Regions from separate parts of the Homo sapiens genome. Here regions 2, 3 and 4 are each linked to region 1. Evidence: fine-mapped expression QTL. A gene starts in region 1. Each other region holds a variant in brackets. All regions are shown on one strand. Distances are between the middles of the regions.

Evidence for each region.
Region 2: its variant is fine-mapped to the expression of PNKP in whole blood (TOPMed, PIP above 0.99).
Region 3: its variant is fine-mapped to the expression of PNKP in rectum (CEDAR, PIP 0.95).
Region 4: its variant is fine-mapped to the expression of PNKP in cerebellum (GTEx, PIP 0.98).

Annotation. Positions count from the first base shown.
Region 1 is chr19:49,863,850-49,871,849 of GRCh38, forward strand. PNKP (polynucleotide kinase 3'-phosphatase) reads right to left here and starts at 3,727. Exons shown (of 17, transcript NM_007254.4): 1 at 3,620-3,727; 2 at 3,205-3,368; 3 at 2,550-2,596; 4 at 1,278-1,577; 5 at 475-554; 6 at 330-387; 7 at 115-222. The coding sequence starts at 3,355. AKT1S1 (AKT1 substrate 1) reads right to left here. Exons shown (of 5, transcript NM_001098633.4): 3 at 7,963-8,000; 4 at 7,698-7,867; 5 at 5,190-6,211. The coding sequence ends at 6,068. RefSeq lists enhancers at 1,617-2,399, 2,400-3,182, 3,183-3,964, 6,163-6,810 and silencers at 3,124-3,493, 3,564-3,863, 5,938-6,247.
Region 2 is chr19:49,886,114-49,894,113 of GRCh38, forward strand. TBC1D17 (TBC1 domain family member 17) reads left to right here. Exons shown (of 17, transcript NM_024682.3): 14 at 1,363-1,460; 15 at 1,605-1,721; 16 at 2,118-2,204; 17 at 2,311-2,637. The coding sequence ends at 2,511. IL4I1 (interleukin 4 induced 1) reads right to left here. Exons shown (of 8, transcript NM_152899.2): 6 at 5,292-5,360; 7 at 4,858-4,994; 8 at 3,541-4,487. The coding sequence ends at 3,557. It overlaps MIR4750 (microRNA 4750), which reads left to right and starts at 2,062; the gene lies at 2,062-2,117. It overlaps LOC124904743 (a long non-coding RNA gene), which reads right to left and starts at 1,363. Exons shown (of 4, transcript XR_007067293.1): 1 at 1,081-1,363; 2 at 333-650. RefSeq lists enhancers at 3,966-4,633, 4,634-5,302, 5,303-5,969 and silencers at 4,009-4,178, 4,409-4,598. The variant A/G (reference allele first, on the strand shown) is at 3,899.
Region 3 is chr19:49,023,521-49,031,520 of GRCh38, forward strand. It overlaps CGB3 (chorionic gonadotropin subunit beta 3), which reads right to left and starts at 813. Exons shown (of 3, transcript NM_000737.5): 1 at 437-813; 2 at 1-83. The coding sequence starts at 451. It also overlaps the pseudogene NTF6A and the pseudogene NTF6G. The variant A/T (reference allele first, on the strand shown) is at 3,422.
Region 4 is chr19:50,414,179-50,422,178 of GRCh38, forward strand. POLD1 (DNA polymerase delta 1, catalytic subunit) reads left to right here. Exons shown (of 27, transcript NM_002691.4): 20 at 637-812; 21 at 1,260-1,412; 22 at 1,546-1,648; 23 at 2,218-2,350; 24 at 2,432-2,545; 25 at 2,867-2,919; 26 at 2,994-3,091; 27 at 3,664-3,836. The coding sequence ends at 3,769. It overlaps SPIB (Spi-B transcription factor), which reads left to right and starts at 4,760. Exons shown (of 6, transcript NM_003121.5): 1 at 4,760-4,807; 2 at 5,768-5,795. The coding sequence starts at 4,785. RefSeq lists enhancers at 597-716, 666-1,450, 1,451-2,235, 2,127-2,186, 5,607-5,656 and silencers at 847-1,026, 1,427-1,516, 1,697-1,856, 3,387-3,526, 3,557-3,616 and 1 more. The variant G/A (reference allele first, on the strand shown) is at 4,595.

The DNA of each region.
Region 1 (8,000 bases):
TTCCTATCAGCATCACACTGCCTGAGGCCTCCGCCCCGCTTACCCTGGAGTCTAAAGCCCTCGCTCTGGATCTCTGTGCCCCCACATAGCTCCCAGCCTCCCTTCCAGCCATACCTGGAAGGGGACCCCCAGCTTCTCCACCACAGCCTCCACCTTGGCCTTGAACTCCTCGGCTGGCAGCTTCCCGCGCCCGATGCTCATCTGGTTGGTGAAGATCACCAGCTGGGGAGCAAAGGGTGTCACCAGACGCTCTGCTCACCAGGGCCTTGGTCTGACTGCGGTCGGACCGCCACGTGCACGTGCCCATGCAGACAGGCGGCTGCACATACCTTGTAGCCCTCGGCTTCCAGCTCTCGGAGCTTACGGGGAATCTCTGGGTACAAGATCCTACGGCAGGTATGAAGCGGCAGGGGTGACCCGGGGCCAGAGGTGGACTCCAGGCCTCACTCACTCCCTTGTTTTGCCTCTTATCACCTCCAGTCACTGGGGCCAGTGGGAAAGACCTTCCCAGAGCGTGTGGTGATGAGCGTCCCGTCCAGATCAAAGCCAGCCACCTGGTGTCACCAAGGAAAGACAAACAGCAGCACTGTGATACCTCTGACCCTCCTCACTCACAGGCTGACTCACACCAACCCTGCCAGGCAGGGTGTTATCACTGCCATCTCACAGATGGGGAAACCGAGTCACAGAGCACCTCCATCTCAAGCATCCGTGATGCCTCTGAGTGGGGCCCGACATCTTAACCTTACTGTCTCCTGTTACTCCTTATGACGCCAGCCCCAGGATTACAGTCTTTAAAATGGGGGTTAATGTCTTACCCAGCCTCCTTCTTCCCCTGGCCTTCACCACCTCGGTGGGCTAATAACCGTGAAAATAAAAGCAGGAGCAAAGCTTTGGGTGCTAACTGCATGTCAGGAACTATGCCACGTGCTTTTTTTATGGATTCAGCATCGTAGAGATGAGACACATGGGACTCAGAATGTGGTGGTAACAGCATTTGAACTCAAGTCTCTCTGGACATAAAAAATCCTCATCGTAATAGCTCCTACTGAGACAGTCATGGTCATTGCTGATTACTGGGTGGTCACTGTGGGTAACGCAGGAGCTGACATATATCATTCTCCCCACTGCTTAACTGCTTACAACGATCCCTGCATTTATCATTAGGCCCATTTCTCAGAAAAGTAAGTAGAGGCTAAAAAGTTGAGAGCACGCAACAAACGTGGGATTGGGTCCCAGTCTGTGGCGGCTCCCTCAGCCCTCGGCGTGGCCCTCACCTTGCCCTGGGGTTTCACCCCAGCTGCGGTGAACACTAGCAACTTCTCCAAGTTCTCCCAGCCGGGGTTTGACTTCCGCATACGCTTCTTCGGCAGCTCAGCATCTCTCTTCTCATCTTGGGACACCAGAGGGGTGCCAGGCGGAGTATCTGGCTGGGATTCTGGTGTGCGGGTCTCTTCCCAGCGCAGGGTCAGTGGGTGGAGGCCATTGACCAAATACAGTGTGTCCCCCACCCCCAGAGAGCCCTCCAACCCCGGCTTCAACTCCTGGGTCCCGGTAGTTGAGGGGTTAACTCCCAGCTGCAGAAAGAGAGGGAGGAGCTGGGACTGGCTCCGCCCCCACCGGGAGCTTCCTCCAATCAAATACCCAGCGGAAAAATCAGCCCTTCTCCACCACTATCAGACCCTTAGGCCCCACCTCTTCACTTTGGAACGGGCTTTGGAACGGTTACAGGTTTTCAGCCTTGTCCGAATCTTTTTTTTTTTTTTTTTTTTTTTTCCCCTGGAGATATAGGCTTGTTTTGTCGCCCAGGCTGGAGTGCAGTGGTGCAATCTTGGCTCATTGAAACCTGTGCCTCCTGGGTTCAAACGATTCTCCTGCCTCAGCTACCCGAGTAGCTGGGATTACAGGCACCCGCCACCATGCCCCGCTAATTTTTGTATTTTTAGTAGAGATGGGGTTTCGCCATGTTGGCCAGGCTGGTCACAAACTCCTGATCTCGGGTGATCCGCCCGCCTAGCCTCCCAAAGTGCTGGGATTACAGGCGTGAGCCACCGCGCCTGGCCGCCTTGTCCAATTTCTAAGGTCTTGGACAGGTACCCACCCCACTGAAACAGGCAACACTTCTTTCTTTACTGGACACATCCCCTTCTCTCCCAGCCATATTTTTTCTTTTCTTTTTTTGAGACAGGTTCTCGCTCTGTCACCCAGGCTGAAGTACAGTGTGGTGATCACTGCTCACTACACCCTTGACCTACTGGGCTCAAGGGATCCTCCCGCTTCAGCCTCCCGATTAGGAACTACAAGGACGCGCCACCATTCCCGCTAATTTTTTAGAGAGACAGGTTTCACCATGTCGCTCAGGCTGGTCTCGAACTCCTGGGTTCAAGCGATCCGCCCGCCTCGGCCTCCCAAAGTGCTGGGATTACAGGCTTGAGCCACCACGCCCGGCCCCAATCAGATTTTCCTAATGTACCCCTTCACTGACGGCTTGCAATTCCTCCCCAAATCCCATCCCCAGGCCTTGCTGGCCCTTGCAGAGGCACTGATACCTGTTTCACTGCCACTGTCCGGGTCTCAGGATCTGCGACCAGCTCCACTGAGGATTGGAGGGGTGGAGTCAGGATTTGCATCCTTGTGTGATTGGGTCCCTCATTTCTGGGGAGTGTGGCCTGCTTCAGGCTATAGCATCCAGGGAGTAAGAGGCAGTTTATTTCTACATGGGATTGGCTCCTTGACATGCAGTAGCCAGATAGTGGCACTAGGATTGCCTGACACTGGTCCTTGCAAGGGACAGGGAGGTACTTTTCTCTACAGAATTGGTTTCCTCCTTGACAAAAAATGTGGCTAGATATAGGTCCGGGGCTTGGCCTGTTACCATCCATCCCAACCTAGCGACATTTACTTTTCTCCACAGGATCATTTTTCTCTTGACGAAGGTCGTCGCCTGTTTCTGGATTTCCCGATGGCCTGAGCATCATCCGCGCAGTGAACATCCTCCCTAAATCGGCTCGATCCCCTCTCCCCCAAAGGATCTAGCTAATTCTAAATCAAGCACAAACTTTATCTTCCTGTACTCCCTAGAGAGCACCTTCCGACTTCGGGGCTGGCTGCACCACTGCAATCCCGCGTAGCAGCCAAGCGTCCCTCTGGATTGTTCCCGCTTTTGCAGCAGGCCACACCCCCTCCAGCTCAGGCCCCGCTCACCTTGAGTTCTGGAGCACTTCCGGTCCGTAACCTGGGTCAGGGGTCCCCTGCCCAGGACCAGGGCTTGCCCGTCCGAGGGCAGGAAGATGGGGGGCGCTCCCCCAGGGGGGCTCTCGAGCCACAAGCGGCCCGGGGCCTCCACCTCGCCCATCCTGGGTGCCGGCCTGGGGAGCAGGTAAACGGGCTTGAGCGGCGCACAGCCCCAATTTGCTGCAGGAAGTCCCGCCTCCTCCCACATCCACTAGAAAGTTTCCCCACCATTAACTGCTCCGGAAGTCCCACCCGCTCGCCTTCCGCGGGTCGACCCGTTTCCCAGGCGACGACGCGTGCTCCATCCCTCCCCGAGTTGCAATCCCCACTTTCCAGCGTACAGGCAGAGAGCCTCGCACATGCCTCCGCCCCGCCCCGTACTCACCCGGGACCGCGGCTTGGGCTCACGGCCACTTCCGACCAGGGAGGTCCTGCCCGAGGTGCCCCGCCTGCAACCCGGCCGGCGGCGGTCGGTTCCTCGGCGGACGGAAATGACTCGTCCCCTCGTGGGTGGGGGGCGGGGCCTGGCCTCCTCCCACAGCAGCCACGCCCCTTCCCCGACTCCCGGCCCCCAGGGTCTCTCGGCAGCCCTGACCTTCATCTCTCTTGCTGCAACGCGAGGCTCAGGCCGGTAGCGGGGACTGGATCCTCCGTTAGCAGATTTGCCTCTTTCCACCTTGACTTCTAATTTTCATCCCAGGGAGGAAGATTTTTTTCCCATCTGATGGTCATTGTCAGTCGAGGAAACCTCCGCCCCCGACAGCGCCCCTAAGTCCTTCTTTGGCTTCACCCTCGATGTTCTAGTTTCCTCATCTATAAAAAGGATAATCGTTTCCGCTTCGTGGGGTTACCATGACGATTAAAGGAGCTAACACGTGACAAAAGCTTTAAAAAATGGGTGGTAGTGAGCCCTGTTTAAGTCTTTTTTTTTTTTTTTTTTTGAGACGGAGTCTCACTCTGTCGCCCAGGCTGGAGTGCAGTGGCGCGATCTCGGCTCACCTGCAAGCTCCGCCTCCCGGGTTGACGCCATTCTCCTGTCTCAGCCTCCCGAGTAGCTGGGACTACAGGCGCCCGCCACCACGCCCAGCTAATTTTTTGTATTTTGAGTAGAGACGGGGTTTCACCGTGTTAGCCAGGACGGTCTCGATCTCCTGATCTCGTGATCCGCCCACCTCGGCCTCCCAAAGTGCTCAGATCCGTTTAAGTCTTATTTAGTGTTAGCATTCTTTCGGTAGTGGTCTGGTGGGACTACGTTTACCTAGTCCTAATTTCGGACGAGGTTCCACCTGCTTTCTAACCTCCAGCCATTTTTTTTTCCCTTTGGAGAAGGGGTCTCACTGTGCTGCCCAGGCTGATCTCGACCTCCTGGTGTCATGTGATCCTCCCGCCTTGGCCTCCCAGCGTGTTGGGCTTATAGGCGTGAGGCACCAAGCCCAGTTGCTCCAGTCCTTTTATAATAGAAGACTCCCGGCTGGAGTTCCTGGCTTTGCTGGTGAATATGTGGGCTCTGTCTCCAACACTCACCTCCTCAAGATTGGGTTCCATGGTCACATAAGACTGGGATGCTCTCCTCCACCCCATGAACCTGTGTCTTCATATCTATAAAATGGGCACAAAGCCAGGCGCCGTGGCTCACGCCTGTAATCCCAGCACTTTGGGAGGCCAAGGCGGGTGGATCATTTGAGGTCAGGAGTTCAAGACCATCCTGACCAACATGATGAAACCCTGTTTCTACTGAAAATACAAAAATTACCCGGGCGGCAGTGGCGCGTAATCCCAGCTACTCGGGAGGTTGAGGCAGGAGAATCGCTTGAACCTGGGCGAGAGTGGGACCCTGTCTCAAAAAAGTAAATAAAATGGGCACAGTAATTCCAACCCCCAGCTATTCACTGATAATCAGACGCTGCCATTCGGTTTCAGAAAATGTTGAATGAACACTCACAACACACTTCACATTTATCTCAGAGGTAAAACTCTTTAATCTCAGAGCGCCCCTCCCAACTGCCGATCCCCCAACCCCTCACTCTCTCCCCCACACCAGGGCCGGAGAGTGAGGGCCCCTGCCCCCCACCTTGGGTGGACGAGGGCCCTTTAAGGCACCTGTGGAGGTGGGGGGCGAGGGGCGGGAGCTGGTACCATCCTGGATGCAGGGACGGGCTTCGATTGGCAGGCTGTTGTGGGGATGGATGGAACCAATGAAAGGGGGTGCCAGAGGCAGGGACAGTTTGGGGCCATCCCTGAGGGGGTCAGGGAACAAGTTGTCGGGACGTGGGCAAAGACGACCCCAGTCCCCGTAGTGTAAAGAACGTAAATTGAAGGCCCCGGGCCAATTCTGGGAAGAGGAGGGCTTGGCCACGCCCCCAGGAAGCTGGAGCCAATTGGGAGGGAGAACTCAGGAAAAGCGGACGGTGACTATGTAGAGACTGGTCAAGCCCTTTACAGGATTTGAGCCAATCAAAAAAAGAGCTGTCCAGCGACTAGGGGATGGAGCCAATGCCGTGCGAGCAAATCCCTTGTCGCTAGGCGGAAAACAAAGGAGTTGACCCATTTAGAGCTTAGAACTCAGCGAGCCAATCCCTTAATAGAAGGAATCTGTCGCTAGGCGGAGAGAGACGACAGACCCAATCGGGAAACGGGACAGATGCCGCTCCTCGGCGCGGCAGGTCGTGGGCTGGAAGGACGGCGGGGATTGGCAGAGGCGGGACAATCTTGGGAATGGGAGACGCAAGGAGGCCGGTCCCGGATCGGCCTCAGATTAGCAGGCCCCGGGAGTGGGGCGGGGGCGTAGTGTGGGACGGGGCGGACGCGGCCCGGGGCGCTCCCTCCCTGGACTTCAATATTTCCGCTTCAGCTTCTGGAAGTCGCTGGTGTTAAGCCGCGGCCGTGGCAGGTCCCCGAAGACCTGGGTGTCCTCGGCCTCTCGCAGCACCAGCGCGCGCATGCTCGCCGCGATGCGGTCCAGGTCGGGCGAAGAGGGCTGCGGGGACGGCGACGGGGCGAGGTCAGCGCCGGCAGGGCAATCCCCCTGCACCCACACGCGGTCCAGGGGTGCACCCGGGCTCCAAGCCCACTTCTAGCACGTCCCTGCCCTGCCACCTGTGCCCTGCGATGCCCACTGCCAGCAGTGCCCCTCCCCGTCTTGCTCCACGTAGGAACCCTTCTACCCGGTTCAGACACCTCCTCCACGAAGCCTACCTGCCCCTCTCCCTCTCCCCTTCTTGGCCTAGGACATTGCTTCCTACACAGTGGAAGTGCTGTTGCCTGCTAGCCATTAAGGCTGAGTGCACCGTCTCATGTCTGAGGATCTGGGCTGGGGTTTCAGTCATGTTCCAATCAGACCTCTGCCGCTGACAAACTATGAGCAAGAGGTTTTGCTTCCCTAGGCCTCAGTCTCCCCTTCTGAAAAATGGGGCGGATAACAGGGTCTCTGTGAGGGCTGAGATAATCAGCTGTTACTGCCTTATCATGTGGCCACTGCGCTACAGAAAAGATCCCTCGCTGTGTCAGCCCCCGCCAAGGAGCCTGCAGTTCTGGCACCTAGTACTGCCTCCACTACAGCCCCCGTCACCCGGAGCTGGGCCTGTCCCCTCGCAGGATGGGACCCGGAGACCCAGATCAGGAACTGGACCTGAGCCCAGTGGGAGACCAGCCCCCGGGCACAGCACGCAAGAGGCCAGAGCATTCAATTAACTGTGTTGCCATGAGTCGCAAGCACAGAGAGCAGCAGCAGGTGGACCCCGCCCGCACCAGGCCCTGTTCCTGGTCTTCAGTGCTCACTGCTTCATTGAGGGAGGATGCACAGAAAAGGTCACCACTGTGACTGCTGGTTTGCATATAAGGACACTGAGGCTTGAGGGGGGGACTGTGGGGACCCAGGCCTCCTCCCTCAAAGCCCACAGCTCCTTCCTGAAACACACCTGGGTTCCAGTCCCAGCTCTGCCTCTCAGGGAAGTCACATGTCCCCTCAGTGCCTCAGTTTCCCCTCTGCTTCAGGGAGGCTCAGTGAAGGGTGAGGAGGACCCACCTAGGCCAGCAGAGCCCAGCCCAGGAGCTTCAAACAGGGGTTGCTACAAGGGGTGAACAGGGGACCAGGGGGTGGGACAAATTCTGCAAAGGGCTAGGAATGTGCAGGGTGGGGATGGGAGGTGATCTGAACCCTCCAAGCCTCAGTTTCTCCACTGGAGGGCATGCCAAAACACCTGTGCCTTGCCCAGAGCAGGTGTTCTATAAATAGAGACGCTCCTGGAAAGGAGAGGCCTTCTCTATAAGGCACTAGGACACATGGTAAGGCTGCAATTGTTAAAACTGCAAGGCTCGTGTCCAAGAACTCGCCTCTTGAGGTTGAGGGGAGGATTCAGTTAGCTTATGGGTGGAAAGCAGCATCCATGCTGGAGGGCTTCCTGGAGGAGGCGGCTCAGAGCCCTTCCAGCTGCCCTCCCTACCTCCCCACATTTGCCCCTCACCGGCCCATTCTCCTCATCTGATGACCGCGCCTCTGTCCTCTTCTCCTTGAAGCCCCAGACGGGCACAGACACAGGCAGGGACTTGGCGTACTGCTGTGTGGGTAGGGCTGAGGCTGGGGGCACTGAGCAGGTGGGGGGGCCGGCGGGGGTCTCCTCGCTCAGGCTGCCATCTGAAAGAGAGGGTGGACTTCAGCTTCTGTCCCTGCCTTTGTGTCGGCCGTGTGCCTGCCCTCAGGTCGGGAGGGGAACAGCCTGGGACACTCACCATCTGTACTCTCGGGGTCTGACTCACAGAAGGGGGGA
Region 2 (8,000 bases), 22 kb after region 1:
TACTAAAAATACAAAAATTAGCCGGGGGTGGTGGCGAGCACCTGTAATCCCAGCTACTCAGGAGGCTGAGACAGGAGAATCACTTGAGCCAAGGTTGCACCACTGCATTCCAGCCTGGGCGACAGAGCGAGACTTTGTCTCAAAAAAAAAGAAAAAAGAAAGTTAAAGTTGCTGTTTGATATCATTGTTTTTCTTGAGTGCAGATGGTGATGATAATAAGTTAAACTTATTCATGAACATTTCCTCGATGCTTTAGGACCCCCGGGGGAGGGAGCTGAGATACTCTGTCCTCACCTTACTGATGAGGAAACTAAGCCATAGAAAAGCATCACCTCCTAGGGCACAAGGACAGAGGCTGCCTCTGGGTCATTCAAAGTCTTCTGAAACATCACTTTTCTTGACTGCGCGGCATTGTGTCCACCTGCAAGATGTGGTAGATTTGATGTAACTTGACCTGCTGGAGATTCGGGTCCTTTGCAGTTTTTCATCACGGTGCATAGTCTGGGTAATTTCTTCTTTAGGTTCACTTCCAAGAAGTGGAATTTTGTTCAGGACAGTGCTTGTTTTCACACAGCTTTGGAGAGTTTGTCCTCCGTTGTTACTTTCCTCAAAGGTTAGAATGCTCAGACTCTCACTTTCATTTGAGTTAACTTGGGGGGAAAAAAAGGTTCAACACCAGCTTAATTTTTTTTTTCTTTTTGAGATGGAGTCTCGCTCTGTTACCCAGGCTGGAGTGCAGTGGTGTGATCTCGGCTCACTACAACCTCCACCTCCCGGGTTCAAGCGATTCTCCTGCCTCAGCCTCCCAAGGAGCTGGAATTACAGGGGTGTGGCACCATCCCAGCTAATTTTTGTATTTTTAGTAGAGATGGGGTTTCACCACGTTGGCCAGGCTGTATTTTTAGTAGAGATGGGGTTTTACCATGTTGGCCTGGCTGGTCTCGAACTCCTGACCTCAGGTGATCCACCCGCCTCACCCTCCCAAAGTGCTGGGGTTACAGGCGTGCGCCATCGCACCCGGCCTTCAGCTTAAATTTTTGCTACAGCGTATCTAGGAGTGTCAGTTCCCTTAGCGCTCACCAGCAGCGGGCAGAGGTCTGTTTCGTCGGGCGTGCTGGGCGTCCTGCCTCCCTTCCATGTCCATGGCAGATGTGGAAGTATAATAGCACACTTCCTCTGGAGAGTGGGAGGAAGGAGGGGCAGGGCCCGCGTTCAGGGCTGCTCCTGCCTCACCTCCGAGGTTCCCCAGCCAGGCATAAGTCACTTGCCTAGACTTGGGGAAGGTCTTCCAGTCAGGATGACTTCTCAAACTCTCAGTCCCAGCGCTGGGCAAGGCTGAGTGGGCTCCATGTCATCCCCCAGATTCCCAGGACTCCGGCTCTCTCTGCTTCTGTTTCCGGTGGCTGCTCATCTGGTTCAAGAGGGAATTCCCCTTCCCGGATGTCCTTCGGCTGTGGGAGGTGGGCCAGCCAGTTTGGGCGAGAGGCCTGAAGGGGTGGGCTCACCTGCCCTGGGAGGTTGGGCGGAGAGGGACAGACCCTGGTGGGACCTCAGGCCCAGGCTGGGCTATGACCTCCCTCCCTCCCTCTGTCCCGCACCCTCAGGTGCTGTGGACAGGGCTCCCTGGCCCCAATCTGCACCTGCTGGTGGCCTGCGCCATCCTGGACATGGAGAGGGACACCCTCATGCTGTCCGGCTTCGGCTCCAATGAGATCCTCAAGGTGAGGCTCCGGCCCCGCCCCCGCCCTGTCCCCCCTGAGCTGGGCGCTGCCCAGGGCCGCAGTACCTCCGGGGAGCAGGTGTTTAGTGTGGGATTATTGAAAGCCTGGTTAGTTGGGAGCGCAGTGGGGGTGGGGCCGCGTAGGTTTCCCTTCTGCCCCATGCCATGCCTGCTCCCAGCAAGGTCCTCCGGGCAGGTGGGTGGGGACCTTCCCTCCCCGAGTACGTGCTCAGAATGCTCCCGGAGGCCTGAGAAGCATGTCTCGCCCAGCGCACTTCTGAGCCCCCAGAGGGCCAGCCCGGTGTGTCTTCATTGTTTCCCAGCACGAAGCACAGAGTGGGCGCTCGGGCGGAGGTGGTTGAGTGCCGACTGGCGCCTGACCCACCCCCTCCCGCAGCACATCAACGAGCTGACTATGAAGCTGAGCGTGGAGGACGTGCTGACCCGCGCCGAGGCCCTGCACCGCCAGCTAACCGCCTGCCCCGTGAGTCCCCGTCCGCCCCGCAGCGCCCCGCCCGAACCCCGACCGACCCCCGCCCCCTTCTCACCTTCACCTTCCGCTTTTCGCTTCTCTCATCCCGTGCCTCCAGGAGCTGCCCCACAACGTGCAGGAGATCCTGGGGCTGGCCCCGCCCGCAGAGCCCCACAGCCCCTCGCCCACCGCCTCCCCGCTGCCTCTGTCGCCCACCCGGGCCCCGCCCACCCCGCCGCCCTCCACGGACACAGCCCCGCAGCCCGACAGCAGCCTGGAGATCCTGCCCGAGGAGGAGGACGAGGGCGCCGACTCCTAACCCCGCCAGGCAGCCTCGTTCTGCACAGGCACTTTAGCCCGAGCCAGGCACACCTGCGAGGGGGCAGGTGTGCTCCGCCGCCCTGCTGATAAGCTGGCTTCATTAAACTGACACTTCTCATGTGCAGTTGGCTTCTTGTTGGTGGGGGGAAGGCTGCCAAGTGGGCTCTGACCTGGTTGAGGAGGGGATGGTGGCTGGGCAGAGCCTAGGGTGAATGATTGGGGTTTGTGGAGGCAGGGCTTCCTGAGTTGCCTGATTTGTTTTTTTGTTTGTTTGTTTTATGAGATGGAGTCTTGCTCTGTCGCCCAGGCTGGAGTGCAGTGGCAGATCTCGGCTAACTGCAGCCTCCGCCTCCCGGGTTCAAGCAATTACCCTGCCTCAGCCTCCTGAGTAGCTGGGACTACAGGCGTGTGCCACCACACCCGGCTGATTTTTGTAATTTTGGTAGAGATGGGGTTCCACCATGTTGCCCAGGCTGGTCTTGAACTCCCGACCTCAGGTGATCTGCCTGCCTTGGCCTCCCAAAGTGCTGGTATTACAGGCGTGAGCCACCGCGCCCGGCCTGATTTGGGGTTTTTGGAAGAGGATAGGGTGCTCTGGGCTGTGGCGGCGACCTGGTAGCTGTGTGGGAACACTTCCCGGACATAACCAAGGTGGAAGGGCCTGCAGAGATGCACTCTGGGGAGCCTGCCCTCCCAGCTGCTGCTTGTGAGAAAAATCACCTCCTGTTCAGCCACTGTCAGCTGGGCTTTCTGTTACTTGCATTAGGGCCCATCTGGACTTCAGCCTCGTGACAGAGGTGGTCGCTGTGATTGCCATTTCCCGGTGGTGCAGGGCGTCCTTCCGGTTCCCTCTGTGCGCACCACCCCCCACCCTCCTCTGGAGCCCCACTGTCCAGGAAGAAGTGAGGGGCAGATTTTTGGGGGGGCTCCAGGATGGGCGTGGCGCCTGCTAACTGCAGGGCTAGTGGTTCCGATGCAGGCAAACTGGGGAAGTAACTGAGCCACGGGGGAGGCTGGACCACACGGCTTTTTCCGAAAATACTTTAATGCGAGGTCCTCGTGTGGGTCGTGTTTTGGAGAGATAACTGGCCTTGGACTGGAGGGTGGCTGCCTTCTTCCTTTGCCAGGTCATGCGAGGGGCTGCTGGCCACCCCATGCACATGCCCCTGCCCCTCCATGTCAGATGCGTGCCCCTCGGGGCTGGCCGTGTCCGATGCAGGCCCCTTCCGGCTGTTGATCTTGATGGCGGCGCGCAGCGCCGACTTGACCGCCGTCTCCACCCAGCCGTGCGGGTAGGCGGTGTGCTCGCCGGCAAAGTAGATGCGGCCATAAGGGACCGTCCAGTCATCCTTTTCGGTTTGCCAGAGCGCCGGCGGCTGTACCAC[A/G]AAGCCACCCTGGCTGTGCTGGTCCTCCGCCCAACGCTTGACGACGCCGGTGCCGTCCCAGAGCTGGCGCACGACAGGCCCGTGCAATGCCGCCACGTCGTCGAGCGCCAAGCGCAACGCCTCTTCCCGGCTCAAGCCGGCGAACGCTGCCGCCGCGTCCGACCACGTGTACGAGGCCAGCAGCAGCGCGCCCTCGCGCGGCGGCGGGTAGAAAATCATGCGCGACGGGCGATCGGTGTTTGAGTGGCCGCCTTCAATGTGCTCCTCGCGCCAGAAGGGCCTGCGGAAGCTTAGGAACACCTTGGTGGCCGGCACGTAGTGCAGCCTCCGCAGCGCCTCCTGCATGTGGCGGGGCAGCGGCGGCGAGAAGGTGATGCGCTTCACCGCCGGTCCGCTCGCCGTCAGCAGCACCACGTCGGCCTTCAGCACCTTCAGATTCCGCGCCGGGGGAGAGGTCTCGATCTGCACGTGCACATCGTGCGGTCCCTGGGTCATCGCCACCACGGGCGCGTTCAACAGCACAAGCCCGGACAGCGAGCTCAGCAGCGCGCGCGGCAGCAGGTCCCAGCCACCCACGATGCGGCTGTACCTGCAGGCGGGGCGGGGCGGGGTGGGGGCGTGACCTGGGCTCTGCGGCCCTGCCCCTCTGCCTTGCCCCACCCACCCCGGCAGCTGGCCCTTATGGGCACCGGCCCGCTCCCCCGTCATCCACCTCTCCCGACCCCGCCCGTCCCTGACATCCCAAAGGCCGCAGGAGTAGTGGATTGTGTCACCAGGGACCCCACCACTTCTCCCCTAGGCCGTGTCCTTTATCTGGGAACCCTTAGCCCCGCGACCATCAATTAGGCCACGCCCTTCACAACAGCCCCGCCCCCAGACCCAGAGGCTCCTCCCACTCCCTGCTACTTTCCCTGATTGCCCCCCGCCCCCCCCCCCTGCCCGCCAGCCCCGCCCCTTACTGGAGTCTGTCGCTGAGGCAGCTGTGGGCCCGGAGGGCCTCGGCGAAGCTGAGATAGAAGAAGCCATCCTCGGACATCACGTCTCCCAGAAGCTGCACGGCCGGCCGGCTCAGGTTCCCCTCCCCGAGAAGATATTCCTGCAGGTTGGGCACAGGCCGAGGTTAGGGCCCAGGCAGGCTGCACCCCTGAGAGAGCCCCTCCGCAGCTGGGCCTCCTGGTCCCATGACATGTCCTTGGACCGTAGGATCCTGTCCCCACTCTCTGACAGATGAGGGAAACGGAGGTCCAGACAGGGGGCGTGTCCAGCCCCCGGGTCAGGCAGGAAGGCGGTGGCAGGACTAGGGTGCCAGGTACCCGCCTTCTGACTCTCTGGGGAAGGCCTCATGGTCACTCTCTTTGCCCTGCATCTCAGCAGAACCAAGATCCCCACTTACCAAGAGCGTGTGCCTTTCAAACTTCTTCATCGCCTTTCTGCAGCCCAGTGCCTTGAGGTCTTTGAGGGCCTGTTGTGGAAGAAGCAGACATGGTGCTGAGCTGCCCGGGCAGCCAGGGTGGAGGCCGGGCCTGGAGCCCACACTCGGCTTCTCCTCGTGGTTCTGCCCACGGCTGGCCATTCACCACTCTCAAGCCCCTGGGCTTTTGCCCACACCATGCCCTCCGCCTTGCCCTCCACGGCAACTCAGATGCCACTGCTCCTCCGATATTACCGAACTGTTAACGCCGCCCATCCCCCCTCATTCGGCTGGCCCGGCTGGTCACAGCTCATCCCGGTTGCGTGTTATTTTGCCTATTTTTCAGCCAGCCAGCCAGACTGTGAGCTCCATGGAGGCAGGGATGTGGGCAGCTGGAGAGGAGACTGGGAGAGGGTCCCAGGCGTGCTGTGTCCTCCCGGGGGCTCAGTGATTATTTGTTGCCTGAATCACTGTGGCCACGGACAGAAGCTGGTCCCCTGTGCCACTGGTCAGTGCTGACAGGGCATGATGGCTGAGAAGTTTATCTACCGTCCGTCCCCTGCCCACAGCCCTCCTGTAGCTCCCCAGTGCCTGGAGCCACAGAATTCTTGCCCCTCAGCCTCATGTTCAAGGCCCCTGCTAGCCCCTCAATGTCTTTTTTTTTTTTTTTTTTTTTTGAGATGGAGTGTCGCTCTGTTGCCCAGGCTGGAGTGCAGTGGCGCCATCTCAGCTCACTGAAACCTCTGCCTCCCAGGTTCAAGTGATTCTCCCACCTCACCCTCCCAAGTAGCTGGGATTACAGGCGCCTGCCACCACACCTGGCTCATTTTTGCATTTTTAGTAGAGACAGGGTTTCATCATGTTGGTCAGGCTGGTCTCGAACTCCTGACCTCAAGTGATCTGCCTGCCTCGGCCTCCCAAAGTGCTGGGATTACAGGCGTGAGCCACTGCGTGCCAGGTACCCGCCTTCTGACTCTCTGGGGAAGGCCTCATGGTCACTCTCTTTGCCCTGAATCTCAGCAGAACCAAGATCCCCACTTACCTCAGTCCATGTCTTTTATGGCAGCTCTGGTTCTGTGAACAGTGTACAGTGCCCAGACCACCTGCCCTCAGGGCTCTCCCACCTACACATCTGGCACCTATTGTTTCCCTGCCTGTCTTTGCGTGGCACATGAGTGCGTGTTCTTCAGCACTTTGTTCGAATCTCACCCCCTCCCAGAAGCCTTGCTGCCCCCATCTAATTTCAGCCTTCTTCTTGGTCCACCTGGCTTCCCCCTTCTGGCCAGGACCTCAGAGGGAAGGCAGTGCCCCTTCACTCACTCATGCATCTCGCATCTCTCAGACTCCCAAACCAGTCAGTGTCAAGGCATAGAAATGACCTGGACATGGCCCCCATCCTGGTCTAGAAGGGGAGATGGGCAAGTGGGCTCTGACCTGGGTGGGGAGGGGATGTTGGGTGTGGCCAGTTCCTCCCTAAAGGTATCAGGGAAGGCTTCCTGGAGGAGGGGACATTGGAGCTAGTTCTTGAGGGCTGAGCAGGAGTTCCTGTGTGGGGAAGGGAAAGGCATTCTGGAAAGGGAGGGTGATACACAGGTATAGTGGGTGTGAGGAACACAGAGCTGGGGGCATGTGGACCACCATGAGGACAAAAATTTCTTAGAGGAGAAAAGAGCATGAGGCTGGAGGGGTGCAGAAGGGAAGGCCAGTCAGGGCTCAAAGCTGAGCCTGAAAAGATCAGACTTTGTCCTGGAGGCAGCGGGGAGCCACTGGGGGCTGTGAGCAGCATCACTCTGGGTGTGTGGGAAGACGTTTCTGGTACCAGGCTGGGGAGACTAGAGCCTGGGCAGCTTGAGAGGAGGCTGGGGGAGGGTCCAGGGCAGAGGAGGAGGCCTGAGCTGGGGCAGGCAGAGGGGAGCAGGGCACAAGCGTCAGGCGGCAGGGGTGGGCACTGATGGTGGGGGAGGTGGGCGAGGAGGAGGTCAGGAGGAGGATGGCTCCTAGGGGTCTGCCCGTGACTGCGGGATGGTGGGGCCATCGTGAGATGGGGGCACCGGGAGGAGGAACAGGTTTAGGGGAAGCTTCTGAGCCCAGTGTCCTGGGGAGGGACACAGATCAGGGTCTCGGGAGGCAGATGTCTCCATCAGCCCATGGATCTATGTTTAAGCCAGAGGTGGAGACTGGGGAGGTTATCCAGGACAGTGTGTGGGTGAAAGGGGAAGAGGCCAAAAGCTGATGCAGCTTTGGGGTCAGCAGTGTTTACGGGGAAGCTAAAGAAGGGAGTTGGGGCCGGGGGCAGTGGCTCACGCCTGTAATCCCAGCACTTTGGGAGGCTGAGGCAGGTGGATCACGAGGTCAGGAGTTCAAGATCAGCCTGGCCAAGATGGTGAAACCCCGTCTCTATTAAAAATACAAAAATTAGCTGGGCGTGGTGGCGGGCGCCTGTAATCCCAGCTACTCGGGAGGCTGAGGCAGAGAATTGCTTGAACCTGGGAGGCGGAGGTTGCAGTGAGCTGAAATGGCGCCATTGCACTCCAGCCTGGGTGACAGAGTAAGACTCCATCTCAAAAAAAAAAAAAAAAAAAAAAAAAAGAAGGGAGTTGAGAGATGACCCATATGTGTAGAAGCCCCTGGGCTGGCCCATTCTCATTCTCGGATTTCAGTGAGTAGGTCAGTGGTTAGACCTCATGGCAC
Region 3 (8,000 bases), 840 kb before region 1:
TTGATGGGGCGGCACCGTGGCCGAAGCGGCTCCTTGGATGCCCATGTCCCGCCCATGCTCAGCAGCAGCAACAGCAGCAGCCCCTGGGACAAGGACACTGCTTCACCCGGGTCTGAGACCGCAGCCCCGAGTCCTGGCCTTCCCATCCCGCGTGGTACACCACCCACAAAGACCCAGAGACCCTTCCCGGCATCTCCTATTCAGGACCCACCACCCGGACACCTGCCTTTCAGAGCCCACCCCACAGCCCAGAGGACCTGAGATACCCCAACATTTCAGATCCGCACCTTCAGGAAATGCCCCACCTGAAGCTTACTGGGGGTCACGCTCCTCCAGAAAGAGGCCTCCTTCCACAGCTCACACTGGTCTGACCCCTTCTCATGCCAGTGATTGCCTGGAAGGAGGTGGAAGGTGCCCAGGGGCCCTGCAGTCTTACCTGGAACATCTCCATCCTTGGTGCGTCCCCTGCCTCGTGTACCTGGCTTTATACCTCGGGGTTGTGGGGGCGGCAAGGCCACCAGGAGGTGATAGGATGCTGGGGTGAGCTCGACACTAACCCCTCGGGGGGCAAGAGGTAGACAAGGCCAGGGGGGCGCAGGAGTGGCTCAGCGGAGCGCCCCAGCCCTCTCCTCTCACTGGTCCAGCGCCAAGGGTGAGGCGGAGACCACGGTGAAGTGACCTCAGAGACTCAGTCGTCGAGTGCTAGGGACTAGTCGAGGCTGGAGGCACAGGGAGTAGGGTGTAGGAAGGCCTGCCTCTGCCTATGGTGGGGTCCTGGGAGCCAGGAGGAGGCCGTGACCCGAGAAAGGTGCTGGACTGAAGCCTCAACCCTCCTCTACTTGAGGCTTTCCTGCACCACAGTCCAACCTCCCAGGAGGGGCGCGGCTTCGGACTTAGTTTCTGCCCAATGAGAGAGGGCCTCCCCGTGACTGTGCTGCCAGGGAAGCCACTTGACCCTGGTGCCGCCAACGAGGGATTCAGCCCGAGCCCCACCTCTCCCTTAGGGACCTCCGCCCACCCTACCCTCAAGCCAGGATGCCCGGAGCTGTCCCCGGAAATGCGTGTGCTTCAGGTGATTTAACTGATTATTGAATAGGCCCGCAGGAGGTGTGTCCTGCCCATGGGGCCGAAGCCTCGGAGGACATTATCTGGACTTAGTCCCTTCCCCGCGATGCCATCAAGCTGGACAATTTTAAGGTCTGTTTCTTTCCCAATGTAGGGTATAGGTTGGCACAGGGAAGAGGGCTAGAAACCTGACTTGAGCTCCCCGCCCAGGGCTGAACTCTCCAGCATCCTGATCACTTCTCATTGAACCTTGCTTATACTCCCCGTGTGATCGGTAGCTCTTTATCTCAAAACAGAATATTCTAAGCCAACCCCTGCCTGCTCTCACCAAGTAAGATTTCTCATTTGAACCCCAGCTCCCAGATACTTAAAGGCCTTCTGTAGACCATGTCCTCAAGGTCCCCTGGCCATCTGCTTGCATGTTCCAGTTTCCCTCCTCCCCCATGCACATCGTGAAATGTGCCCTCCCACTCCCCAGGATGAGCAAGGTGGTGTCCTCTGTGACTGAGCAGTCAGCAACTTAACACCAAAGGTCACCAATGATCAAATCCATGAGAGTTGATCCGAGGAGTTATGTATTAGGGCTACGAAAGAGTAAACACTCAGTAAATAGTGGCTATTATTATTATCATCATCATCATCATCATCATGATTACCCTCAAGTTCCCCTGGGAGAGCTCCTATTCAACCTTCAAAACCACATGTGGTGGCACCCATCCTGCAGAGATTGAGCTCAAATTCAGAGAGTTGTGATTTTGTGATGATTTGATGAGTTCCCCAACTGGGGTCCGTCCGTAGAGCAGCTGGGCCAACCCTGAGGTCTCTCAGCATCCAGCTCTGTTCTTTTTCTGCCTGACCAGTTCCTGGGTATAAGTCTCAGGCCCGGCCAGTCCGGCTGAGGAGTGTGCAGACACAGGCTGTGCCAGTTTGAATCCATCGCCAGTCCACACGGCCCTGGGCATCAGCGGTCAATGCCCGCACATAGGACTGCTTGGCCTTGCACTCAGACACCCAGTGCCCCCCGGTCCACACCCCGGCGGCAGCCCCCTCCACCTACCCCCGGGCCACCTTCCTCAGATTTATCGGCCTCGAAGTGGGCAACAAAGAAGTGCTGGCGGAGGGAACTGCCGACAGCTGCAGGCACCTCGCCCAACACCTCCACCTCGAGCACACCCAAGTCCACAGCAGTCCAGGGGTCTGTCACCCAGACACTGACTGCATCGCACACGGCCAGCTCACCCTGATGACTCGCCGGTGAAGTATCGCTCACCCCTCGCTGGCTGCGGTTGGCCCGGGCGCCTGCTGACTCCCGAAAGGCTCCAGTCTCCAGCAGGAAGACCAGAGGGGGCCCGGCAGCGGCACCCCTAGACAGGACCACTCGGGGGAAAAGAAGGTCCCACTCTGGAGGAGGAAAAGGCGACAATGTCGAGGATGGGGTTAGGACTCCATTGACACACTGGGGAGGAGGAAAATGAGGGGGATGCGGAGGGAGCCTGGGGGAGTGGGAGCATCTCTCAGAGCATCTCTCAGAGCACATGGAGACAGGGAAAAGGAGGCTGGGATTAGAGAAGAGGATAAACACTTCAGTGGGGTCAGAAGTTGGAAACCCCAGGGGAGGCCTGCCTGCCAGGATTATGGGGAAGCCCTTGCTCTAGAAGTTTGGGGGACTCCATATATAGGACTTGCATCACACCCAACTTGTAGATTAATAATAAATATTCAACAACTACAGGTCAGGCACTATGGCTCACACCTGTAATCCCAGCACTTTGGGAGGCTGAGGCGGGTGGATGACTTGAGGTCAGGAGTTCGAGAGCAGCCTGGCCAACACTGTGAAACAACATCTCTACTGATAATACCAAAATTAGCCAGGCCTGGTGCTGCACGCCTGTGGTCTCAGCTACTCAGGAGGCTGAGGCAGGAGAATCGCTTGAACCCGGGAGGCCGAGATTGCAGTGAGCCAAGATGGTGCCACTGCACTTCCGCCTGGACAACAGAGTGAGACTCTGTCTCACAAAAAAAATAAAAATAAAAATAAGGCCGGGCATGGTGGCTCACACTTGTAATGCCAGCATTGTCGGAGGCTGCAGTGGGTGGATCAGCTGAGGTGAGGAGTTCCAGACCAGCCTGACCAACATAGAGAAACCGCACCTCTACTAAAAATACAAAATATCCTCCAGCGTGGTGCTGCATGCTTATAATCCCAGCTACTTGGGAGGCTAAGGCAGGAGAATCACTTGATCCCAGGAGGCAGAGGTTGCAGTGAGCCAAGATCGCGCCATTGCACTTCAGCTTGGGCAACAAAAACAAAGCTCCATCTTAAAAAAATAATAATAATAATCATAAAATAAAGATA[A/T]AAATGTTCGGCCGGGTGCAGTGGTTCACGCCTGCAATCCCAGCGCTTTGGGAGGCCGAGGTGGGTGCATCACCTGAGGTCAAGACTTTGAGACCAGCCTGGCCAACATGGTGAATCCCTGTCTCTACTAAAAAAAAAACACAAAAATTAGCTGGGTATGGTGGTGCGCACCTGTACTCCCAGCTACTCAGGAGGCTGAGGCAGGAGAATCGCTTGGACCCATGAAGCAGAGGTGTAGTGAGCCGAGAGCGCGCCACTGCACTCCAGCCTAGGTGACAGGGCCAGACTCCGTCTCAAAAAAAATAAAAATAAAAATAAAATAAAAATAAAAGTAGAAAATATTCAACTACTATTACTCAATAGCAACAGATGGTAAAATACAGGCTCAGAGAAATTAATGATTTGTGCCTGGTCACACAGCCAACAAATGGCAGAGATGGGACTTCACCTCTGGGCAACTGCACTCTGCTATCCTTCCTGTAGAACTCTGAGGAACCGAGGGTCTTGCACCCTGGAGGATGTTCCAATCAATTTTTTTTTGAGGGGGTGTCTCACTTGTCGCCCAGGCTGGACTGCAGTGGCGCGATCTCGGCTAACTGCAGGTCCACCTCCCGGGTTTACACCACTCTCCTGCCTCAGCCTCCCGAGTAGCTGGGACTACAGGCACCCACCACTATGCCTGGCTAATTTGTTGTATTTTTTAGTAGAGACGGGGTTTCCCCGTGTTAGCCAGGATGGTCTTGATCTCCTGACCTTGTGATCTGCCTGCCTCGGCCTCCCAAAGTGCTGGGATTACAGGCATGAGCCACTGCACCCGGCCCAATTTTTTTTTTTTTTTTTTTGAGACAGAGCCTCACTCTGTCTGGCCAGGCTGGAGTACAGTGGCACAATCCTGGCTCACTGTAGCGCCTGCCTCCTGGGTTCAAGTGACTCTCCTGCCTCAGCCTTCTGAGTAACTGGAATTACAAGCGCCTGCCACCGTGCCCTGCTAATTTTTGTATTTTTAGTAGAGATGCAGTTTCACAACATTGGCCAGACTGGTCTCAAACTCCCAACCTCCAGTGATACTCCTGCCCTGGCCTCCCAGAGTGCTGGGATTATAGGCCTGAGAAACCACGCCTGGCCCCAAACAAATTGCTTTAAGACGAGGTCTCCCTATGTTTCCCCACTGCACTTGAACTCCTGGGCTCAAGCCATCCTCCTGCTGTGGCTCCTGAGTAGCTGGGACTACAGACTCAAGCCACCACGCCTGGCCACATTCCACAATTTAGAGAAAGTGCACAACCTGGAATCCTAGGGAGACCCCGATTCACCTCAAAACTGCCACTAAGGAGGTAAAACGCTGCCCCTCTGAGGCAGGCTTCAGTTTCCCTGTGTGTGAAATTGACCTGGCGCTGGGAGAGGCTGGTGGAGGCGCGGATTTTGCAGTTTCCCTACAACATTCTGGAAGCCTGTGGTTCTGGGAAAGGTTGGCGTGGAGAAGACTGGGAAACAACCAGTGGTCACCAGAGCTGTAGCACCTCCTCCACCTCCGAGCTCTGGGGCTGGGAACCCCAGGCTTCGGGGCCCCTGTGGAGGACGCAGGTGGCCCCCTCTTTCCTGACATCTCAGGAGAGGGAGGGGCAACCGGCTAGCAGAAGAAAAGCACAGGAAGGTTATACAGCCAGGTGGGGAAGGGGCCAAATCCCTGAACAACCCCTTCCCAGAGTTCCTCTTCAAGTGCAGGGTACCCAAGAGTCAAGGCCCCGCCCCCTTTCCAGAGGCCCCTTTTCTACCCAGGTGATGGGTCCTAGCTGGGATGGGAGGCAGATGGACGGAGGGGAGGGGGGAGGAGGGGAAGGGAGAGGCAGTGGATGAAGGAGGATGGAAGAGATGACATCCCCCTCGGCCCATTCATCCCATTCAGGTCCCCAAGCCGCGCCCCTCTCCGCCCCACCTGCACTGCCAGTGCCAACATCAGAGGGAGGAAGAGGGAGCTCGGCTTAGAAGGCTGAGGCCCTGCCACCTGGGCCACACCGATCACGTGGCCTTCCTTCTCCCCACAGAAGGCCAGACCATGGACACCTCCTGAGCTGGAGGTCATCCTGCATCTCCACCCTGTTTTCTTTTTCTTTCTTTCTTTCTTTTTTTTTTTTTTTTTGAGATGGAGTCTCGCTCTGTCGTGGAGGCTGGAGTGCAGTGGCGCGATCTCTGCTCACTGCAAGCTCCCCCTCCTAGGTTCACTCCATTCTCCTGCCTCAGCCTTCCAAGTAGCTTGGACTACAGGGGCCCGCGACCAAGCCCAGATAAGTTTTTGTATTTTTAGTAGAGACGGGGTTTCACCGTGTTAGCCAGGAAGGTCTCGATCCCCTGACCACATGATCCGCCCGCCTGGGCCTCCCAAAGTGGTGGGATTACAGGAGCGCAGCACCACGCCCAGCTAATTTTGGTATTAACAGTAGAGATGTTGTTTCACAGTGTTGGCCAGGCTGCTTTTGAACTCCTGACCTCAAGTCAAACACCCGCCTCAGCCTCCCAAAGTGCTGGGACCACAGGTGTGAGCCATAGTGCCTGACCTGTAGTTGTTGAATATTTATTATTAATCTACAAGTTGGGTGTGATGCAAGTCCCATACATGGAGTCCCCCAAACTTCTAGAGCAAGGGCTTCCCCATAATCCTGGCAGGCAGGCCTCCCCTGGGGTTCCCAACTTCTGACCTCACTGAAGTGTTTATCCTCTTCTCTAATCCCAGCCTCCTTTTCCCTGTTTCCATGTCCTCTGAGAGATGCTCCCGCTCCCCCAGGCTCCCTCTGCATCCCCCTCATTTGCTTCCTCCCCAGTGTGTCAATGGAGTCCTAACCCCCACCCTTGACATTGTCCCCTTTTCCTCCTCCAGAGTGGGACCTTATTTTCCCCCAAGTGGTCCTGTCTAGGGGTGCCGCTGCCGGGCCCCCTCTGGTCTTCCTGCTGGAGACTGGGGCCTTTTGGGAGTCAGCAGGCACCCGGGCCAACCGCAGCCAGCGAGGGGTGAGCGATACTTCACCGGCGAGTCATCAGGGTGAGCTGGCCGTGTGCGATGCAGTCAGTGTCTGGGTGACAGACCCCCGGACCGCTGTGGACTTGGTTGTGCTCGAGGTGGAGGTGTTGGGTGAGGTGCCTGCAGCTGGCAGCAGTTCCCTCCACCAACACTTCTTTGTCACCTGCTTCAAGGCCGATAACTCTGAAGAAGGTGGCCCAGGGGTAGGTGGAGGGGCTGCCGCTGGGGTGTGGACCGGGGGGCACTGGGTGTCTGAGTGCAAGGCCAAGCAGTCCTATGTGCGGGCATTGACCGCTGATGCCCAGGGCCGTGTGGACTGGCGATGGATTCAAACTGGCACAGCCTGTGTCTGCACACTCCTCAGCCGGACTGGCCGGGCCTGAGACTTATACCCAGGAACTGGTCAGGCAGAAAAAGAACAGAGCTGGATGCTGAGAGACCTCAGGGTTGGCCCAGCTGCTCTACGGACGGACCCCAGTTGGGGAACTCATCAAATCATCGCAAAATCACAACTCTCTGAATTTGAGCTCAATCTCTGTAGGATGGGTGCAACAACGTGGGGTTTTGAAGGTTGAATAGGAGCTCTCCCAGGGGAACTTGAGGGTAATCATGATGATGATGATAATAATAATAGCCACTATTTACTGAGTGTTTACTCTTTCGTAGCCCTAATACATAACTCCTCGGATCAACTCTCATGGATTTGATCATTGGTGACCTTTGGTGTTAAGTTGCTGACTGCTCAGTCACAGAGGACACCACCTTGCTCATCCTGGGGAGTGGGAGGGCACATTTCACGATGTGCATGGGGGAGGAGGGAAACTGGAACATGCAAGCAGATGGCCAGGGGACCTTGAGGACATGGTCTACAGAAGGCCTTTAAGTATCTGGGAGCTGGGGTTCAAATGAGAAATCTTACTTGGTGAGAGTGGGCAGGGGTCGGCTTAGAATATTTTGTTTTGAGATAAAGAGCTACCGATCACACGGGGAGTATAAGCAAGGTTCAATGAGAAGTGATCAGGATGCTGGAGAGTTCAGCCCTGGGCGGGGAGCTCAAGTCAGGTTTCTAGCCCTCTTCCCTGTGCCAACCTATACCCTACACTGGGAAAGAAACAGACCTTAAAATTGTCCAGCTTGATGGCATCGCGGGGAAGGGACTAAGTCCAGATAATGTCCTCTGAGGCTGAGGCCTCGGGGGCAGGACACACCTCCTGCGGGCCTATTCAATAATCAGTTAAATCACCTGAAGCACACGCATTTCCGGGGACCGCTCCGGGCATCCTGGCTTGAGGGTAGAGTGGGCAGAGGTCCCTAAGGGAGAGGTGGGGCTCGGGCTGAATCCCTCGTTGGCGGCACCAGGGTCAAGTGGCTAACCTGGCAGCACAGTCACGGGGAGGCCCTCTCTCATTGGGCAGAAACTAAGTCCGAAGCCGCGCCCCTCCTGGGCGAGGAGGTTCCACCTCCTAGGTTCCTGTGATTCTCCTGCCTCAGCCCGAGTAGTGGGACATCCCACTTGCTCCCGCCATTCTGTTTACCACAGGTGACGACCGCCATGGCTGACAG
Region 4 (8,000 bases), 550 kb after region 1:
GGGTGCACCTTAGATCTGTGCACCATTGCCCCTGGCCCTCTGAGTGCGGCACACTTGGTCCCAGGAAACCTTGCACCATATTTTCTTTTGAAGAGTCTGGGTCTCGCTCTGTCGCCCAGGCTGGAGTGCAGTGGCGAGTTCACAGCTCACTGCAGCCTCCAACTCCTGGGCTCCGGCGATCCTCCCGCCTTGGCCTCCTGAGCCGCCACGCCCAGTTCTCACACTGTACTGTTTCCCCGTGGCTTAACGCTCTCTCGTGCCAGGCCTTGGACTTGGAGCCTCGCAGAGTGGGGAGGTCTCTGCCTCAGGGCTCACCCAGCCGTAGTTTCTCCTCTCTTTCATGGGATGCTTCATCGACTCGCCTGTCTGGATCTCATGTTTTAGGGACTATCTGGATTTATCCCAGTCTCTGTTTCAGATTGGGGTCTCTGGTGTGGGGGCTCTGGCATTGCCGAGGGGCCTCAGGAGCCACTTCCAGCCATACAGTGTCTCGGTCCATCCCACCAGGCTCAGGGCACGGCTCCCATGTCCTCAAACTGCGTCTGGGACCCTGTCTACCTTCAGTTTCTGGGGGGCGTCTCCAGATTGGGGCTTGGCCTCCTCAGGCTCAGGGTCTTGGCCATGGCTCCCTCCCAGGTCTACTTCCCATACCTGCTTATCAGCAAGAAGCGCTACGCGGGCCTGCTCTTCTCCTCCCGGCCCGACGCCCACGACCGCATGGACTGCAAGGGCCTGGAGGCCGTGCGCAGGGACAACTGCCCCCTCGTGGCCAACCTGGTCACTGCCTCACTGCGCCGCCTGCTCATCGACCGGTGTGTGGGGCCTCCTCCCTCAGACTCAGGGGGCTGGGCCCCAAACCCCTCCTCCCTCAGACCCAGGAGTCTAGGCCCCAGCCCCTCCTCCCTCAGACCCACGGGTCCAGGCCCCCAGCCCCCTCCTCCTCAGATCCCGGGGTCAGGGCCCCCAGCCCCTTCCTCTCTTAGATACAAGAGTCCAGACCCCCAGCCCCTCCTCCTCTGGGAACACAGGTGTCAGGCCCAGCTCTTCCTCGGTGGTGAAGCAGTGGAAAGAGTCGGCTTGGGCAGCTGTGGGTTCAGGCCCTGCCTCTGCCACTCTGCAGCCTATGGTAGGAAGGGCCCCTCTCTGCCCTGAGCCTCAGCCCTAAGAGCTCATCCTGGTCTCCAGCCCTGAGACCCGTGGAGGCACCAGCCTGGCCCTCAGTGCCTTTTGGTGACGCTGTGCGGCCCGCTCTCCTACAGAGACCCTGAGGGCGCGGTGGCTCACGCACAGGACGTCATCTCGGACCTGCTGTGCAACCGCATCGATATCTCCCAGCTGGTCATCACCAAGGAGCTGACCCGCGCGGCCTCCGACTATGCCGGCAAGCAGGCCCACGTGGAGCTGGCCGAGAGGTCCTGCGCGGGGCGGGTGGCCTGGCCAGAAATAACCCCCTCCTTCCTGCCAGCTGGGCCCACTTCCTACACCCTCGCCCCCACCCCCGCCACCCACCTGCCCTCACCCACCCGCCACCCCATCTCCACGCAGGATGAGGAAGCGGGACCCCGGGAGTGCGCCCAGCCTGGGCGACCGCGTCCCCTACGTGATCATCAGTGCCGCCAAGGGTGTGGCCGCCTACATGAAGTCGGAGGTCAGGCCCACCTGGCTGCCTGCTCCCGCCCAGCCCCCTCGCTCTCACTTCTGCTTTCCGAGATGGGCGGGCCTGCGGGAAGGGTGGGGCCTCCCGTGCCCTGTGGGGCCCTGAGAACCGCCCCCCATGGCAGCCTGGGTGTGGCCTCGGCCCCCTCTGGAGGTCCCCCCTCTATTCTGACCCCTCCCTTGCTTCCCTATGGAAGGGGCCCCAGTCCCTCCCCTGTGCATACAGCTCCCCAGCCGGGGGTTCCCTTGGATTCATAATCCTCCAGCTCTACCCCCACCCCCAGTGACCCACATCTTAGCCCCATGACCTCTGACCTCCTGACCCCTTCCTCATCCTTGCTTCCCCTTGTGAACTCTGACCCTTCCGTGGTGACCTGAGAGCCCTACAGACTCTGTGGCCCAGAGACTCCGTGACCTCCGACCCCATCCCAGACCCAGGCCCCCCCCATGTCACAGCCCGCAGGCAGGCCTAGGCCCTAAGCCCCAGGCCCCATGACCACCCCGTGTCCACCCCGGTGCCCTTTCCCTGGCTGCCCGGGTGTGACTGCCATGTGGCCGCAGGACCCGCTGTTCGTGCTGGAGCACAGCCTGCCCATTGACACGCAGTACTACCTGGAGCAGCAGCTGGCCAAGCCCCTCCTGCGCATCTTCGAGCCCATCCTGGGCGAGGGCCGTGCCGAGGCTGTGCTACTGCGTACGGGGGCACCAGGGGACTGGGGGCACCCTGGGGGGGCAGAGGAGATCACCGGCCCACCACCTGCCTCCTCTCCTGCAGGGGGGGACCACACGCGCTGCAAGACGGTGCTCACGGGCAAGGTGGGCGGCCTCCTGGCCTTCGCCAAACGCCGCAACTGCTGCATTGGCTGCCGCACAGTGCTCAGCCACCAGGGTGAGCGGCCCTGGCCACTGGGCCCCCACTGGCCCTCAACCTGCTCTGCCGTCACCCCAGATCCTAGACACCCACCCCATCGGCTGGCACTGCCACCCAGTGGGCCCAGGGCCCCTGGGTGGGTGGCCCCTGTCTCCACCCCCCACAGAGGGTCCTCGGCCCCCACCCCGGGAGTTCCCCAGGGGAGTTTTCCCAGCACACTTGCTCCGTTGTTCTCCAGCCTCTGGGGACTTTCAGAAGCTGGGATTGGCAGTGGGCAGGGATGGGGTGGCCCAGTTCCTGGCTGGGCCCCAGCACTTGGGCTGACCCGCCTCCCCACAGGAGCCGTGTGTGAGTTCTGCCAGCCCCGGGAGTCTGAGCTGTATCAGAAGGAGGTGAGAGGGCCGGGAGGTGAGGAGGGGCCAGGTGGGGAGGCGGGGGCGCCCTGCTCAGCCGCTGCCGTCCCCAGGTATCCCATCTGAATGCCCTGGAGGAGCGCTTCTCGCGCCTCTGGACGCAGTGCCAGCGCTGCCAGGGCAGCCTGCACGAGGACGTCATCTGCACCAGGTGTGTGCCATGTCCCGACCCTGGGCTGCCCCGCCCCTTCCCAGCTCCCAGGCCTGTGGGTTGTGGACCCAACCTCTGACTCCAAGGCCTCTCCTGAGCATCCTCCCCGCCCATCCCCTTCCAGCTGTGAGCTGTCCTGAGCCTCAGTGTCCTTGTCTGAAAAATGGGCCCATCCCAGCCCCCCAGAGGGGGTGGGTGCTTAGGGAGGCAGCGCCCGGCACCCAGTGTTGCCCGGGAAACGGCTGTCCTCCCGACACACCCAGCCAGCCTGGCCCCCTCCCCAGGGCGGGGCCGGGCTTTCCCCAGGGAACGGGTAGGCGGGGTGGGTTCCCACGCCAGGTGACAGGTGATATACGGCCAGCCATGGCCCTGCACCTCGCCAGGCACCCGCTGTTATCGGCTCCCCCCCCCCACCCCCCCCGTGCCTGCTGAGCAAACAGCCCGCTGCGGGAGGGGGCGGGTGGGCTGGGCAGCAGGCGGGGACCAAAGTCCTGGGAACAGCCCCCACCCCTCTCCCAGGCTGGGCACTGGGCCTTGGCTGGTCCTGACCCTGCCCCTGCCCCCACCCGCAGCCGGGACTGCCCCATCTTCTACATGCGCAAGAAGGTGCGGAAGGACCTGGAAGACCAGGAGCAGCTCCTGCGGCGCTTCGGACCCCCTGGACCTGAGGCCTGGTGACCTTGCAAGCATCCCATGGGGCGGGGGCGGGACCAGGGAGAATTAATAAAGTTCTGGACTTTTGCTATATGGTGCTTTGTGGTCTCTGGGGGACACTGTCTGGTTTCATAAGCCCTGGCCTTGGCTGGGACCCTCCTGAGGCCCGCACCGCCCCTCATCCTCAGCAAAAGCCCCCGGACTCCCACCTGTGCTGCCTGGTTCATGTGGGCCAAGCCTGCCTCAGTTTCCTCTCTGGCCCTGAAGGAACCCTTATACCAGCGCTTCTCTGCCCTGCTTAGGGCCCCCAGGTGTCTGGCCCCGGCCCAGCCCTCCCTGGTGATGACCCTGGGGACCCTGGTGGCTGCCCCGCCCTCCAGGTGCTGACCTGTTTCCTCCAGGCCCTGGGGCAGCCCCAGGCGCACCGGGGCTTCCACTCCTCAGCCCGGCCAAGGGGACCCCCCCATCCCCCGCCGGACCACACACCCACGATGTTTCCACGTCGGGGTCCTGGCAATGGGCTTTGGGTCTGGGTTTCCCCCCAGCGACTCCCATCTCTATCCCCGCAGCCTCTAACTGCCGTCAGATGCCCTCGGCCCTCCCGTCACCTCACACATCCCCCGGGGAGAGTCTTGTGCTTGCCCCTCGGCCCCCAGCCCGCCCCTGCTGGAATTCGGCTCCTGGGTCCAGATCCTCCGTTTCCTGATTCTCCTCTTCAGTGAACCCCAGCCCTTCCTCGATGTTTTCAGGGTTCCCCCAAATCCAGCTCCTGTCCCATCTCCAGCCCTCAAGGTCAGCCCCCCAAACCCAGCCCCACGGGGATCCCCAAATCCAGACAGCCCCTGGCCC[G/A]CCATCCCTGCCATGTGACAAAGGGGTTGTGCAATCCAGCCCCCTCCCCTGACCCCCTCCCTGAGGGGATTTTTGAGGAGGGCCGAGCTTGTGGCCAGCGGGCACCCTCCTCCCCCCGGCAGGGGCTGGGCCAAGATATAAATAGGGTTGGCGGCTGCAGCGGGCGGCAAACAGCCCGCCCGGCACCACCATGCTCGCCCTGGAGGCTGCACAGTAAGTGAGGGCCCCCAAACCTGCACCCGGGGTCCCCACCTGCACTGCCCCTCTGTGGGGCCTCACCCATGGGCAGTGGTTTCTCTGCTCCTCACGGCCGGTGGGTGGGAGTGGAGGGGAGGGGTCCACCCTGTCTCTTGCCCCTTCTGGTTCTGTTCCCTCTTCACTTCGGACTCTCCATCCCCCCAGTTCCTATCTTTCCTGGTCCCCAAAGATCTCATTTCCCCAGAACACTTGCTAGCGTGCCCTCCTGCGGGCGTCCTCCGTGGCTCTCACTCTGTCCATCCTCCTGTCTCCCCGAGTTCCCGTATCTGTTCGCTCTGTATCTGGCATCTCCCAGCTCTCAACATTCTGCCTGTTGCTCTCTGTCTCTCTGCCTGTCTCTGTGTCTCTGTCTCCAGTTCTCGCTCTCCCTGCCTTTTGGTCTCCTTCTGCCTCACCCTCACTCTCAGTGCCTCCATCTGGGGCTCCAGGAATCCTCCCCGCCTCTGTGCGTGAATGTCCCTTTGCACACCTTTCTCTGTGTCCCACCTCTCCTTGAGCCTCCTCATCTGAGTCTTCTCCGGGCTTCCCCCTCTCTACCCAGACATCTCTCCATCCTTCTCCTCTGGTCCAAGCTGGACTCAACTGACTCGCCACCAAGGCCGCACTTGACCCAGGCCCCCTCTCCATCCCCACACCTCCTTTCCGGGACTTTCTCTCCCTCACTTTCCCTGCCCCTCCCCACCAGGGTGTCTATGCAAATTCTGGGGAGGAGGGGGACATTTGCCTCCCCCCCACCCCCCACTTCCTGTCCCAGCAGGGGGTAGTGGGGGAGTCCGGTGAATGTGGTGGGGCTGGTCCCTCACACAGGGCTGCGGTGGTCACAGCTGCTGCCGCCTCCCCATCAGCCCCCAACCACTTTGAGATTCAGGTGGCTGGAGGCAGCCTCAGCATGCCCCTGTGTCTCTCCCCCTCCAGGCTCGACGGGCCACACTTCAGCTGTCTGGTGAGTTGGGGCCCCTGGGGGCCAGGGAGGGGTGGCCCACAGTGACCTCCCTCAGAGAAGTCATTTGCTTCCTGCCTCAGTTTCCCCTCCCACCTCTTCCTGTCACTTTGTTTCTGAGCTCCCCCTTGGTATCTCCTGCTACCCCGCATCCGTATTTTTGATGTCTCTCTCCCCCTCTCAGGCTTGAATCCACTTCCTTGTGGCTTTGTATCTCTCTCTGCCCATCCCATATTCAGACAATGTATTTTCATGTTCCTTTCCTTCTTTTTGTTCGTATTTTTAAAAATTGTGTTCTCTAACAGTTCAGATACGGAATACTATACCCAACACCCTTGAACCCACAATCCAGTCTGAGTAATCAAATCTTACTGATGTGGTTGAAAGAAAGCCCCTGTTTATGCCCCTCCACATTCACACCCCAGCCATGTTTTTTTTGTTTGTTTTTGTTTGTTTGTTTTTTAATTGAAGTGTAACTAACAAGTCAGTAAAGTGACAAATCTTGTGTTTTTGCATTATCTATACACCGTGTAGCCACAAGCCAGATCAAGATACCGAACATTTCAATCTCTGAAATATTCCTTCCTGTCCCTTCTCAGTCAATACCTTTCTCTGATATTTTCCGCCACCAATTTGTAATTTGTTTTGCCTGCTCTTTTTTTTGTTTTGCTTTTTGAGAAGGAGTCTCGCTCTGTCACCCAGGCTGGAGTGCAGTGGCAGCGTCTTGGCTCACTGCAAGCTCCACCTCCCGGGTTCAAGCAATTCTCCTGCCTCAGCCTCCCAAGTAGCTGGGATTACAGGCATGTGCCACCATGCCCAGCTAATTTTTGTATTTTTAGTAGAGGCAGGGTTTCACCATGTTATCCGGGCTGGTTTCAAACTCCTGAGCTCAAGTGATCCTCCCACCTCAGCCTCCCAAATTGCTGGGATTACAGGCGTGAGCCACCGCACCCAGCTGCCTGCTTTTGAACTTTATGTAAAGTGAGTCATACAGCATGTCCCTTTTGGGGTCTGGCTTCCCTCACTCAACATGAAGTGTGTGTCAGTGTTTGTCCTTTTTCCTTGCTGTATAGTACTCTATCTATGATCAGCCCACACCACAGTCTGTTTATCCCTTCTTCTGTTGATGACACCTGGGCTGTTTCCAGTTGGAGACTCATAATAAAGCTGCTGGGATGATTCTGGAACAAGGCTATTTTGTGCACATCCATTTTCAGTTCTCTTGATTAAATGCCAAGGAGTGAGACTGCCAGGTCCTAGGCATGGTGTGGATCTAGCTTTAGTTTTTCCTAGACTCGAGTTCTTGAAGCAACAACACATGATTCATGGGGCGAATCAACATATGGAGATTTATTTATTTATTTATTTATTGAGACAGAGTTTTGCTCTGTCGCCGGGCTGGAGTACAGTGGTGCGATCTCGGCTCACTGCAACCTCAGCCTCCTGGGTTCAAGCGATTCTCCTGCCTCAGCCTCCCAAGTAGCTGGGACTACAGGTGCGCACCACCATGCCTGGCTAATTTTTGTATTTTTAGTAGAGACGGGGTTTCACCATGTTGGCCAGGCTGGTATCGATCTCCTGACCTCATGATCTGCCTGCCTTGGCCTTCCAAAGTGCTGGGATTACAGGCATGAGCCACCATGCCCGGCCTATTTATTTTTCGAGACAGAGTCTCACTCTGTCACCCAGGCTGGAGTGCAGTGGCGCGATCTCAGCTCACTGCAACCTCCACCTCCCAGGTTCAAGCGATTCTCCTGCCTCGGCCTCCAGAGTAGCTGGGATTACAGACATCTGCCACCAGGCCCAGCTAATTTTTGTATTTTCAGTAGAGATGGGGTTTCCCCATGTTGTGCAGGCTGGTCTCGAACTCCTGACCTCAGGTGATTCACTGGCCTCAGCCTCCCAAAGTGCTAGGATTACAGGCGTGCGCCACCACGCCTAGCTAATTTTTGTATTTTTAGTAGAGACGGGATTTCACCATGTTGGCTAGACTGGTCTTGAACTCCTGACCTCAGGTGATCTGCCCGCCTCGGCCCCCCAAAGTGTTGGGATGACAGGCGTGAGCCACCACGCCTGGCCTGGAGGTGTATTTAAAAAGCATTGACCCCTGCCTCTGTTAAGTGAAACACTTCCATTTCCCCTTGCCCTTCACCTCCGGAGCCCCCAGGCAGGCAAGGCTGGGGGAGTTCTTCCACCCCTTCTCCAGGC